2 linked regions of the Homo sapiens genome follow. The protein of the gene in region 2 interacts with the protein of the main gene of each other region in a pairwise test. Each region holds a gene or a part of one and is shown on either strand. Other genes may lie near its edges.

The links.
Region 1: the proteins of CTNNBIP1 (region 2) and MSS51 interact in binary tests that used the Homo sapiens proteins (3 or more experiments, as listed by UniProt).

Annotation. Positions count from the first base shown.
Region 1 is NC_000010.11:73,423,542-73,430,574, forward strand, and holds the end of MSS51 (putative protein MSS51 homolog, mitochondrial), read right to left. Parts: exon of another isoform or gene 4,761-7,033; 5' UTR 4,744-4,760; coding exon 4,523-4,743; intron 4,228-4,522; coding exon 4,072-4,227; intron 3,191-4,071; coding exon 3,066-3,190; intron 2,837-3,065; coding exon 2,270-2,836; intron 1,651-2,269; coding exon 1,557-1,650; intron 1,232-1,556; coding exon 1,012-1,231; 3' UTR 38-1,011; downstream 1-37.
Region 2 is NC_000001.11:9,900,252-9,907,284, reverse strand, and holds part of CTNNBIP1 (beta-catenin-interacting protein 1), read left to right. Parts: intron 1-7,033. UniProt on the Homo sapiens protein: Prevents the interaction between CTNNB1 and TCF family members, and acts as a negative regulator of the Wnt signaling pathway.

The DNA.
Region 1 (7,033 bases), on a different chromosome or scaffold from region 2:
TAATACTTGCCAGTGAATAGGAAATAAAACAAGTGACTTAAGAAGCCCCAAACTGAGTTTATTGGGGTATAGAATGGGGGATAATAAGTAACTCCAGTATATTCAGGTAAAGTCTGATATAGCTTGGGATATCTAAAATATAACACCAGGGCTACTCTAGGGTCAAAAGTCCCCAAGAGAAAACAGGAAAAGTAGACATTTCTCTCAAAAAAGTCAGGAAACAGGACACTGTACCAATGCTTACAACCTCATCCATGTTCCCAATGACTTCCCTGACTTGTCCATTCTTGCATCACTTCAAGTCATCAACATCTTTCCATTTTTTAGCCCAAATTACTGGATGAGAAGAAAGTCTTTTTCAGAAGAATAAGGTGGTTCTCATTCTTTTTCTCAGTGCCATCTGGTTCCAGTCAAAAGGTAAACTTCTTTACAAAGAAAAGTGTTAGCAACTATAAGCTCTGGAAAGACCAGCATCAGGGCCTCTTCCCACCCACTAAATCTAATTTCCTATCTCTAGAAGCTACTGTGGCTAAACTCTTAGAAACCAGTTACATTGGCTGGGCATGGTGGCTCATGCCTGTAATCCCAGAACTTTGGGAGGCTGAGGCAGGCAGATCACCTGGGGTCAAGGGTTTGATACGAGCCTGGCCAACATGGTGAAACCCTGTCTGCTAAAAATACAAAAATTAGCCAGGTGTGGTGGTGTGCACCTGTAATCCCAGCTACTAGGGAGGCTGAGGCAGGAGAACCACTTGAACCCAGGAGGCGGAGGCTGCAGTGAGTCGAGATCATGCCGCTGCACTCCAGCCTGGGCAACAGAGCAAGACTCCATCTCAAAAAAAGAAAGAAACCAGTTATGTTATACAGAAACTCTCATTCAGCTTAGAATTTTTACCCAAACAGTAAATGAGGTTTAGAATATAATGTTTTTCAAAGTTTGCAAGAACCTGGCATTAGCAGGGTAATTTCATCACAAACTCCCCGTTTTCCAGATGTCCAGTTATGATCTATTTAAATCCCGCCGTCCACTTTCTCTTCTAATTGCCTATTATCCAGCTGACAGGAGCTTCCAAGAAACATGATATAGTATGCACTGCAGTATACTGGCTGCTTGTTGGGACTGGAATAGACCTGTTCAGGTTTGAGGGACATGAAAGGATTAGACCCAAAGGCAGTGATGTGTGTATCCAGTTCCACCAGAATCTGCAAAGAGGATACCAACTCCTGATGGCTGTAGAAGAGAGAGAAGAAAAATTACTCTACTGATTGTGACAGAGATAAAGGAAAAACTGCCCAAGAGCCTGACATTTCTGTAATCACCCATCCCCCAAATTGCCTAAGGCTGGACTAGGCAAGGGCTATCTTTCCCTCCCAAATGTCTCATTAAATATTCCATTAACTAGCAAAGGACTGTTCCAAGGGGATAAAAAAGCCATATGCGGAAAAGAACATCCTCACCAGAAGGTAGATGAGCAAGAGGGGGGCAAAAATGAGCTCATCTATATAAAGAGAGATGTAAAGTCAGGGAAGTATCACAAATAGGATGAGGTCAAAACCTGTAAACAGTAATCAATGTAGGAATCTTATAGTCACGAAGTAGCAGCAGGGTGGGCAGCCAAGCCTCCATCAAGTCTGGGGAGGAATGAAAACCTGTGGAACAAAAATGAAAATGGGAATAGGGAAAGACTAAAGCAGACCCTAAGAGCAAGATATTTCTTTGACTGTGAGCACCCCACCCCTCACCTTGCTTATCCCCAGTCATTATCATCATCATCATCATCCACTCTTCAATGAAAAATTCTGAACCCAAGTGTAGTACATATGGCAAATTATCAAGAAAAGTTGTCATCAGGCTGGGCGCGGTGGCTCACGCCTGTAATCCCAGCACTTTGGGAGGCAGAGGCGGGCGGATCATAAGGTCAGGAGATCGAGATCATCGTGGCTAACACAGTGAAACCCCGCCTCTACTAAAAATACAAAAAATTAGCCAGGCGCCTGTAGTCCCAGCTACTCGGGAGGCTGAGGCAGGAGAATGGCGTGAACCCGGGAGGTGGAGCTTGCAGTGAGCCGAGATCGCGCCACTGCACTCCAGCCTGGGCGACAGAGCGAGACTCCGTCTCAAAAAAAAAAAAAGAAAAAAAAAAAAAGAAAAGTTGTCATCATATTGTGTTTAATGAGACCAAATGAATGGGGTTCCAAAGACAGAAGATTCAGGATGGAAAATTCTCAGGGGAGCCACCCTCTATTCCCCTGAACCAATGACTCTTACCTGGATGGAATGCCGCCACCAAATCTGGATGGTGTGTCTGCCCGGTCTCTACTTGCTCCTCCCAGAAGTCATGGTAGAGGCCCCTGTGGGCACTAAGCTGAATTGTGCCAGGTTCCAGGGGTGAAGTTGAGGTGCTCTGTGAAAAGCCAGTAGCTACATCTACACCCACCATGACCACACGGAGTCCAAGGTGCCCAGGAAACATGTAACCAAGCTCATCATAGTCCCCTGGGCGAGTAAGAAATGTCTCCACATGGGAAGCACCAACCACATGCACTGTGCTTCCCCCAGTCCTCCTAACATCTATCCCCAAGGCCCTAAGTCCTAGGCCTAGAGTCAAGGGCCGTGACAGGACATCTGTCAGCAGCCGCTTCAAAGATCCCTGCAGGACATCCGGGTCTGGCCTTGGCCGTCCTACACTGGCCCATAAGGTGGTCACAGCATGACTAACTAGCACAGCATCCAATGTAGCATCTAGGTGTAACCCCTTCATAGAAAACCAGGAGTCCCAGTCCTGTACAGCTTCAGGTGGCCATGGCCAAGGTCCTGAGGGTAGAACAAAATCACCTGTAGGAAAGAAGAAATAAGAAGTAACCTAATGCTTTCCTGGCTTCAAAATTTCCCCCTCACTAATGATCAATATTCCCTCCATGTTCACTCTGCCAACCTGTGAGCAGGCGTGCCCCATCCTTTGCCCCACTTCCTCATTTTTTCATAACAATATGATTTTGTATCTTCCTTTAAATGCAATCAACTATGACCATTATGGCAGAGATCCTCAACACCACCACTCCACCTGTGACCAGAAGCCATTCCATGAGACGGTCCACAGCCACAAGACGAAGCTCTTGACAAACCCTCCTGTGTGCGGGCCAGTCTGACTTCTGGCACTCTGGACCACAGTAATAGACATTTCTGCACCTGAGAGAATGAGAGAGAAATAGTTCTTATACTATAAATATGATTGGGGTTATCGGAGGAAAGGAACTGATATTCCTGCACCTAGGATGGTGAATGGGTAAGGAAGGTAGGGAGAGGAATGAGAGCTGATGCACCAATTTTGGGGACTACATTTGGCAGACAAGGCAGGAGGGATTGGGAATATAATTATTCTGCCAGACAGAGTGATACCTTACTCTCTATCTGGAACAACTCACTTTTTATATCACTTTTAGAAAAAACACCACGAGTTTGCAGCTGTCCTCTCATAACAGGTATGGTTCAACCTCCACCTCCCCAGAACAAATGTAGTCTTACTCCTTGAGTACTCAAGAGAGAGACAGAGAGGATTGTATTGTGGTTTCTTGTCTCACTTCCCAATAACACCAAAAATAAGCAGGATTAGAACACTGTTCTAATCTCTGTAGCCTGGGTGACAAAAAATGAGGACCTAAGTCTTAGGTTATTTTGAAAACTTTCAGATCTTTCCTCTTGGAATGAGGTTGTAGTAGAAGGTCATTGCTTTTTTTTTTTTTTTTTTTTTTTTGAGACAGAGTCTCGCTCTGTCATCCAGGCTGGAGTGCAGTGTGCAATCTTGGCTCACTGCAACCTCTGCCTCCTGGGTTCAAGCAATTCTCCCACCTCAGCCTCTCGAGTAGCTGAGACTACAGGTGTGTGCCACCACACCAGGCTAATTTTTGTATTTTTAGTAGAGACAGGGTTTTGCTGTGTTGGCCAGGTTGGCCTCATGTGATCCACCTGCCTCGGCCTCCCAAGGTGCTGGAATTACAGGCATGAGTCATCATGCCCGGCTAATACAGGATCATTTCTGAATGTCTCCCTATTAGCCCCCAACAAGTCACCTCTTACAGTGCCGGAGAACCTTGGAGTCTGAAAGCCCACTAGGGAGTGCTCTACAGTGAGCACAGAATCGAAATGTGTCTTCCATCCTCTGGAACATTTCTTGAGGACATCGAAATCCAAAGCCTGATACGGGGGTACCCCCATCTACCACCAACCTGCAGAGACAGCATGGAGAAGGAATGACAATGGGGAAAGGAATATCTCCAAAATCTCTCATGCCCCCCATCTTGTCTCCTACACATTTCCACTTACTCCTATGTCTCCCACTGCCATCATTTTTCACTTAAGTGAATGTTTCTTCTTTTATAGTAATATAGTAACTGGCAAAAGGATGAGAAAATCTCTTATTGCAAATACTCCATATTCACCAAACTGTACTCCCTCTCCACCTTCTGAAATTTACTTCTACCAGAGACAATATATCCCTTTTCCATAGAGCTGGTCACTCACTTATATTCTTCATAGCTTTTCATGTTCAGCTTTTGAAGGATCAGCTGCGATAGGCCAGGAACATTATCATCCAAGGAGAAGAAGCCAAGTGTGTCAATGCTAGGGCCAGGTTTTGAGGGGGTCAGAGGCACAGGGGTCACAATTGTGGTTGGGGCCATGATGATGGGAGCCACTGATGAGGGAGGTTTCTTGTGCCTTCGTCGCCGGGACCGTGGAGCCATGGCCTGTCCAGTGATACCTGGAGATTATATGCAGAATAGACATGGAATGGAATTTTACAAGCTGGACACTTGTGAAGTATTTTCATATGCTTGACCTTTCATTTCTCATTCCAGTCTCTCAGACCCAGGTTATCAGTAAGATTTATTCAGTATTTACTGGTTATTGATCACCATAGGCAGCTGTGGAAAATAGGGAAGAAGTAATTTGTTGTTGTTGTTGTTTTTTGAGACAGAGTCTTGCTCTGCCGCCCAGGCTGGAGTACAGCAGCATAATCTCAGCTCACTCCACCTCCTAGGTTCAAGCGATTCTCCTGCCTCAGCCTCCCGAGTAGCTGGGACTACGGGCAGGCGCCACCAGGCCCGGCTAATTTTTGTATTTTTTAGTAGAGATGGGGTTTCACCATGTTGGTCAGGCTGGTCTCAAACTCCTGACCTCAGGTGATCCACCCACCTTGGCCTCCCAAAATGCCAGGATTACAGGCTTGAGCCACCGCACCCAGCCAAGAAGAAGTAATTTTATATGAATATAATTTACACATAGTAAGTCCTATACATTATATATATATATACACACACATATATATATATAAGTAAATGCATCAAAAAAGATTTGGCAGGGCCCATAGAAAACTGGTAACAGCTGGGCGTGGTGGCTCACGCCTGTAATCCCAGCACTTTGGGAGGCTGAGGCGGGCGGATCACCTGAGGTCAGGAGTTCAAGACCAGCCTGGCCAACATGGTGAAACCCCATCTGTACTAAAAATACAAAAAATTAGCTGGACGTGGTGGTGGGTGCCTATAATCCCAGCTACTTGGGAGGCTGAGGCAGGAGAACTGCTTGAACCCAGGAGGCGGAGGTTGCGGTGAGCCGAGATCGCACCATTGCACTCCAGCCTGGGCAACAAGAGCAAAACTCTGTCTCAAAAAAAAAAGAAAACTGGTAACAGTGATTAACTCTGAATAGTTTAAGAAGGCAGTTAAATAGGAACTGGGCTGATCAAATGGAACTGTATACTTACCTGTAATGTTTGACTTTTTTAATAAGGAGAAAATATTAATATAGCTTTAATGTATTTTAAAACTCAATTTAAAAGAAGAAAAAGCAATAGAAGTTTTAATTCTCCAAAGTGACCATCCAATTGGAGAGTTAGACAGTTTAATATAGAGAGATAAAACATTTATTTTGAAAGACCTATTATCACATGTATAAGCAATAAGCCAAGAAGTAAAAATTAAATGTAATACAAAACGTGCACTAAGAGTTATGTAGTCAAGCAAGTCAGAAAAATTTCCTAAAGTGGTAAGTTTTGAGGTAGAAGTAAGCCTACACTCAGTCACGATCTGGCTGTGACTCTGTGCTGTCCTCTTTCCCTGTCTCATCTTCTGCCATGCCTTCCATAAGAGCTGAGTAAACAGAAAGGACCATATGAGAAAAATTAAAATGTCCATTCATGTAATATATATTTACTGATAAACAGATGAAATCATTTGCGAAACACTATATATAGAAGCAAATATGAGAAATATATATCTAAATGTCTTGCAGGGAGATTAGATGTAGACTATAAGGTACTATATAAATCCAACCAGAAAAGTGCAACTAAAGCACTAATGGGAGATCAGAAGAAGAAAATCTCTTCAGTGGGCGAGAATCTCTTCAGTGGCTTTCTTCATGAAGCAGGTGGCAGTTGGAATAGACCTTGAAAGATGGGAATACTTTGAATACTTGGAAATAGGGAAAAAATAAATTCTAAGCACAGAGGAGAGAATAAACACAGAAATATAGACAGAAACATTCTGCAAATTAATGAAATAGAATGACTCGAGTTTGAATGTTTAAAGTATAAAGACCTAAACTTAAGAAGTAAAACTATAAAAGTCTATGGGGAAAGGTTCATGACATAGGTTTGGCAATAATTTCTAGGATATGACACCAAAAGCACAGGCAACACCACCACCACCAAAATAGATAAATTGGACAGCAAAATTAAAAACTTTTGTGCATCAAAGGATGCTAAACTAACAACAGAGTCAAATGACACCCCAAGAATGGAAGAAAATATTTGCACACCATATATCTGATAAGGGGTTAGTATTCAAAATATATAAAGAATTCCCACAACTCAATAACAAACAAAAAAACCACCAAACAACCCAACTAAAAAATTGGGCATAACATGTGAATAGGCATTTTCCCAAAGAATATATGCAAATGGACAATAAACACAAGAAAATATGCTCAATAGTCATTAGGAAAATGCAAATCAGAACCACAGTGAGATATTACTTC
Region 2 (7,033 bases):
GCAGGAGAATCGCTTGAACCAGGGAGGTGGAGGTTGCAGTGAGCCAAGATCGTGCCACTGCACTCCAGCCTGGGCGACGGAGGAAGACTCTGTCTCAAAAACAAAAAACAAAAAAACTCCCCAAAAAACAGAATAAAACTTATCTCCATGCTGCTCCAAATCTGTGCTGTCAGAACATGTCAGAATGAGAGGACCTTGGGGGTTACACAGGCCAGCCCCTTCTTTTATGGTTAAGCGTCTGTGTCCCCTAGAAGCTGGCTCTTTTGAAATCTTATAGCAGTTTATGCATTTTCTTATGATGCCTGCTAGTTTCTACCCCATTTCATCTCCATGTGTACACATGTGACTCTAAGCTTTCTGAGGCCAGAATCTCTACTGGGTTTGTCTTTGCATCGTCCACAGTGTCTGAATCAGCGCCCTGCACAAAATGTAAACTCTTCAAATATTGGTTGACTTGCCTGGGCATCTCATCGCACCAAGACTCCTGCCCCTGCCCCTGTCTTTTCATCAGACCATGCTTCTTGTAGACTCCTCATCCAGGGTGCAATATAGTGTAAACCCAGCAGTGTCTTGTTCACAGGGCTCACATGACAGGGCAGCCCTTCCTTGATGGATCTGCTCTCTCCATCCTTGCCTGTGGGGAACAGCTGCTGCTGGTGCTGACCAAGTAGTCACTTGACACTCAGCAAATATGAAGTGTAGCTCTTTATTATTATTTTTTTTTTTAGATGGAGTTTTGCTCTTGTTGCCCAGGCTGGAGTGCAATAGCACAATCTTGGCTCACTGCAACCCTCTGCCTCCTGGGTTCAAACGATTCTCCTGCCTCAGCCTCCCAAGTAACTGGGATTACAGGCGTGTGCCACCACGTCTGGCTAATTTTTGTATTTTTAGTAGAGATGGGGTTTCACCATGTTGGTCAGGCTGGTCTCGAACTCCTGACCTCAGGCGATCCACCCACCTCGGCCTCCTAAAGTGTTGGGATTACAGGCGTGAGCCACCGTGCCTGGCCTGAAGTGTAGCTCTTAATTAGACCATGGACTTTGTACCAAGACCATCAGGTTTGGATCTTGGTTCTGCCTTCAGGAGCTGCATGATCTTCAGCAGGTAACTTAATCTCTCTGTGTCTCAGTTTCCCCATATGCACAATAGTAATACTTTCCTCATGGAGTTGTTGGGAGGATTAAATTAAGTAATACCTAGTAGATACTCAGAAGACCACCTAGCACTTGGTATATGCTAAATTGAAGTAACCATTATTTCGCCTTTTTTTATCTGCTTCTTAGCTCCCACCAGCATTTAAGCTCTTTGAGAGCAGAGATTTTTGTCTCTTTTTGTCTACTCTTATAATATAGTACCTAAACTTTGTAGTACTCTGAAAATATTTGTTGAATTGAATGACTGATTGAGCACCTATGTGCTAGGCACTGTTGCGGATGCTATGGACGTAGCCAAGAACACGGTCTTTAAGAGGCATGCTCTTATGAAGTTTATCTTCTAGTGGGAGAGACAGATAGTAAACAAATAAACGAGTCAACAAAAGAATGTAGGGTGGTGAGGCCGGGCGCGGTGGTTCACGCTTGTAATCCCAGCACTTTGGGAGGCCGAGGCGGGTGGATCACCAGGTCAGGAGATCGAGACCATCCTGGGTAACATGGTGAAACCCCGTCTCTACTAAAAATACAAAAAAAAAAAAAATTAGCCGGGCATGGGGGCGGGCGCCTGTAGTCCCAGCTACTCAGGAGGCTGAGGCAGGAGAATGGCGTGAACCCGGGAGGCGGAGCTTGCAGTGAGCCAAGATCGTGCCACTGCCCTCCAGCCTGGGCGACTAAGCAAGACTCTGTCTCAAAAAAAAAAAGAATGTAGGGTGGTGAAAGAGATACGGGGGAAAATAAAACAGAAGATAGAAAGTGGATGGGACGAGGGTTAGGGTCATAACTTTAGCTCTGAGAAGGTGGCTTTTGGGAGACATGGATGGTGATCTAGGGGGACAGCTTTGTGGACAGAGAGGACTGCAAGAATGATCAACCCAGAGGGGCTGGAGTGTGGTTAGTGATGAATCAGCAGGGGCCAAATTTGTGGCTGTGGTTAGGAGTTTGGATTTTACTTTTGAATTCTGAACAGTGGGAAGTCACTGCATGGGAACTTTTCCTGGGGTCTAGGAGAATATTTGAGTCCACACTAAAAGACAGAACAGGACATTACGAAGAGCGGCTGGAATAGGCTCTCCTTGTCCTGGGAGGTTTTTGAGGCCAGCCAGAGTATTGAGTTTCTTCCCATCAGGTTCCTTATTTCTCTGGCCTGGTCCCCTGAAGATGAGGGAAGCATCAGCTAGGTTGATGACAGTCCTGGTATGTGTGTCTGTGTGTCCTGCATTTTATTGAGCTTCCTTTTTTCCGAGTCCCTAAGTCATCAGCAAACATTTCTTGAGTTGAATGAATGAATGTTGCCAGTGCTTAGCAGCTTGTCGTCTACAGTGGAATGTCTGTGTTCTCTGCTCCTCTCTGTGTGAGTTAAAGCTTCTTATCTTGGCAGTGACTCTTAAGTAGTCTTGGAGTTTTGCAGCCATTCTTCATAAATGCATCAGCGACACACATACATGTATATCACTGTTTCTTTGTTGAGAGTATACCAAGATTGACTGGACAGCTTTCCTACCCCCACCCTATCCCTACTTCTCTGCCAGTCCCTGCCATCACCAGGCCCCTCTATAGAGGGTTGGGCCACACTGGCAACTCTGACCATCTCCTGTTTGATTACTTGATCAGGAACACAGTGGTATCTAGAAAGCATTGGTTGTCTTTCATCTGGGCTGAGCGGAGTTGGGTAACTCAGCAGAGCGCTGAGAGAAATGGCATTTCAAACCCAGGGGCTCCACTCACCAGGAATCCAGAGTGGGACTCTTTAGACTGGGTGCCATTGGCCAGCTTTTCAGATCCCTTTTTGGTCCTCCCATCAGTTGTCCACGATGCCACTTGCTCTGCTAACCTGGAGAGACCAACACAAGTTAGTGGGAATCAAATAGGACGCTTGTGTTGCAGGTCACTTTCAGAGTCCTGGGGCATTTTATTGGCAGAATCTGAAATGCCTGCTAGTCATATGTCATCTGTAGATTTGTAAAAACTAAACGCAGAGTGGGTGCAAGCTTTTTCTCATGTAGCTGGTTTTCTTACTATGAGAATGATACGTGCTCATTTAGAAAATGAGAAAGTGAATGATAGTGGCATTTTACATACACTGTCTCATTTCATCCTCACGGTTTCTGAGATACGTACCATTATTACCATTTTGTATGTTAAGAAGCTGAGGCCTAGAAAAGTTAAGTAAAGTGTTTGAGGTCGAGCTAGTTGGGAACAGAATCAGATTCAAACCAGGCAGTATGACTCCCAGGCAGAGCTCTGAGCACCATGTCATATACTGATTCTCAGCAGAAACCATAGAGAAGAAAGAAAAGCCTCCCTTAAGCCCAATGTAGGTGATACTCTTAGGGTAGTCAGAGTTAACTTGCTGGCTGCTCCAAAGGGTTTGAATCCTAGGCCCTTTCCCTGTCTTGTCTGACCCTGGGCAAGCTAAGTAGCCTCCCTTTGCTTTACTTTCCCTGACTGTAAATGGGGATAATGATACTTGTACCTTCGTAGTTCCCAGGGGCATGGTGGTGTTTGAGCCAAAGTGCTTTTGAACTTCTTTTATGAAAGGGAACTGAGCACCAACTACTGTTATACTCAGTTATTAAAGACCTATTATGCTCTGGTCTTCCATGAAGCCTTGTTAAAAAGGGAAAGACAACAGTCCCCAGAGGGAAGGGTGTCCTTCTGTGGGGGAATAGCTGGACAAAAACATTGTTCTCCCCTTTTGAAGTTTCTTAAGGATTGAGGGTCATACCTGTGGCTCCATTTTTCATGGTTGTGTTGTAGTGTAGAAACTTCTGTAAACAGGTATGTGTTCTGTGCATCATAACATGATTGAGGACCCCCAATGGCAGGGCCAAGAGGGAGTTAAAGGGCTTGGTTTCTAATCTTGGTTCTGATGTTTTTTATAAGCCAGGATCACAGAGACACCAAGAAGTGGTGGTTGTCTTCCATTACTCCTCCCTCCCTCCCCTCCTTCCTTCTAATGACTCATTGATTCAATTAACAAATATTTATTAAGGCTTTATTACAATCTGGACACCATCATAGGTACTAGGAATATCGTGGCAAGCAGGACAAAAATAGTTATTCCCCAGCCGGGCGTGGTGGCTCACGCCTGTAATCCCAGCACTTTGGGAGGCCAAGGCAGGCGGATCACGAGGTCAGGAGATTGAGACCATCTTGGCTAACATGGTGAAACCCCGTCTTTACTAAAAATACAAAAAATTAGCCTGGCGTGGTGGTACGCACCTGTAGTCCCAGCTACTCGGGAGGCTGAGGCAGGAGAATTGCTTGAACGCTGGAGGCGGAGGTTGCAGTGAGCTGAGATTGCACCATTGCACTCCAGCCTGGGCAATAGAGTGAGACTCTGTCTCAAAAAAAAAGAAAAAAAAAAAAGTTCTTCCCCATACCAAGCTCTTAGTCTAGGACCAAAAGGCTTATTATATAGTTGGGATCGTGTGAATGAAGAAAGAATGATTTGATGAGAGTGCTTTGAACTCTTAGGAGGAGAGTCAGGACATGATCTCCAGATGCACACTGGCCCCAGTGGCTACCTGCCCTGAGTGGACATTAAGGTGGGGGGCTGGGTTGGCTTTCCAGAAGAGCAAGGGAAGAGTGAAACAATTAGAGCCCTTCCGTGTCCTGTAACAAAAGCTGTACTTGGTATGGACATCTTGAGAAACAGTGCACACCTCAGGAGCCATGGTTAGCAAGAACTCCCTTCCCACTTAAAGCCTTAACCCTTTGACTGTTAACTTGAGTTTCAGTCAGGGAGAAATGCTCATATTGAGGATTTCTTTTCAAAGTTTTTGCTTGGGGCTGTGGATTTTGAAGTTCTGCCATTAACACGGTGCACTTCTTATGTAACAGGCGCCAGACCTTGTCTCTGCAGAGTTCTCTTCCTGCCCGACACGTCTCTCGCTGCCAACTTTGGAAAGCAGGCATATGGTGGCAGGCGGGCTCTCCACAGTGCTCATGGGGTTCCTGGGGGAACTGATGCACATGGACACCTATGTCCTCTGGCCCCCATTTTGGGTCAATATATACAGATTAGAGTGGGGGCAGGGTTCTTTCTTCCCCAAGCACCAGGCCTTCAGCTCTCTTCAAAGACCAAGGTCAGGGAGGTCTAGCAAGCAGTTCATGTGAAAGCACACAGTGTTCCTCTCTCCCTCCAGCCAGGGCTGGGTAGAGAGGGCAAAGGGCTGGCAGAGGCAGCCACTCACATTTGGAGTGAGAGGAGGGTGCCAGGACAGCGAGGCATATCCTTGTGCGATGTTATTTTCACCAGCCCTTGTCATGTCACTGTATGTGGCACTCCCGGTGCTAATCAGCTGGCCCTTCAAGCTGAGGGGCGGGGCAGCAGCATCCAGCATCTGATTAGGAAGGCAAGGCCTGCACAGCGAGGAGGCCAGGTCACTCAGTGCACCTGGACATCTTCAAGTGTGATTGGAGCCCGCAGTGACGCTGTTTCAGCTAGAAGATTGTGACCCACTTCCATATCCTCTCCCACATGGAGAGCTGGGGAGGAGGCTTTGAGAGCCAGCTCCAATTAAGGTGTTTTTTTCAGGCCCGAGTAGCACCCAAGTGTCTAACCCACATGTTTTCTGCTGCTGGAATCCTGTGGTCAATGTCCTTGACCTGAACCGAATAACCACCCCAGGGCAGATGAAGTTACCACCCCTGAAGTCCTAGATTCCACCAGCAAGGCTTCCTGCAAAGATCAGGATCCCTTGTGGATCAAACACCTCACATAATATGGGCCCCACCCCTGTTCTTCCTGATCAATCACCAAGCAAACCTTGGACCAGTTTCCAAGGAGATACTTAGCCTTGACCTCCCTGCCCAGACAGGCCTCACAGCCACCTGCCTCAGGCAGCCCTGGCTTCCCAGAGACCCATCCTGACCCTGACTTGCACCCTTGCCAAATATCCTAAATATCCTTCTGCTGCAGGAATATGAAATGAGACCTGTTTCTGAACTTCTAGGTTTCTGTTATTCTTTCCAGGTAGATGACATTTTAATGCTTCTCTGTAATTTTACATTTCTTTTTTGTGTGTTGGGGAGGGGCCTGGGGTATGATTTAAATACGTGAAGCTGTTAGTACTGGTAGCACTTAAGCTGGTGAAGTGGTGGGTCTGAGCCCCTGAATAATCCCATTTTACTTACCAAGAAGGGAGCAAAAGTACCTGCCAAGGTCAGCTCTGGCTAGGCCCTATGAGCCTGTTCCTGAGCGTGTGCTCACACTCGGCTTCTGGACTGAGGCAGAAGGTCCTTCTCCCTCCGTGTGTGTTAATACTGTTGGCACTGCCCACAGCCTCCAGGGGCACATAGCCTTCCTCTGGCCGATCGCTGGAGTTGCAGGAAGATGAGGTGCTGGTGATTTTTTGGAAGACATGGTGGGGCTTACAGGCAAGCAAGCTGGCCCCCAGTTCTGCTTTCCTGCACAGAGCAGTCTTCCAGAGTTTGTGGTGGGATGTAAGGGAGCTCGGGCAGCCGGAGCAGTGCAGAGACCTGGCTCCTTCCTCCCTCCTGAGGTCTGCTGCTGCTGGCACAAGGGGTCACGTGTGCCCGTTTGCCTTGTGTTTGCTTTGGGTGCTGGCTTCCCACTCTCACTTCCTAATCTCTAAAGAGGAGTGGCCTGTTAGGTCCATGAGTGGTGACAGTGGAGATTGAAGTGCTTAGCGTCAGGCACCGCACTGCACTGGCAAGAGCACTCAGATGAAGGGTGTTCTTTCATTCTCATCTGACCGCATTCCACTTCATTTAAAAACATCATTCGCCCAGGCTGGAGTGTGGTGACACGATCACAGCTCACCGTGATCACAGCCTCAACCTCCCAGGCTCAAGTGATCCTCCCATCTCGGCCTCCCAAGTAGTTGGGACCACAAGCACATGCCACCATGCTG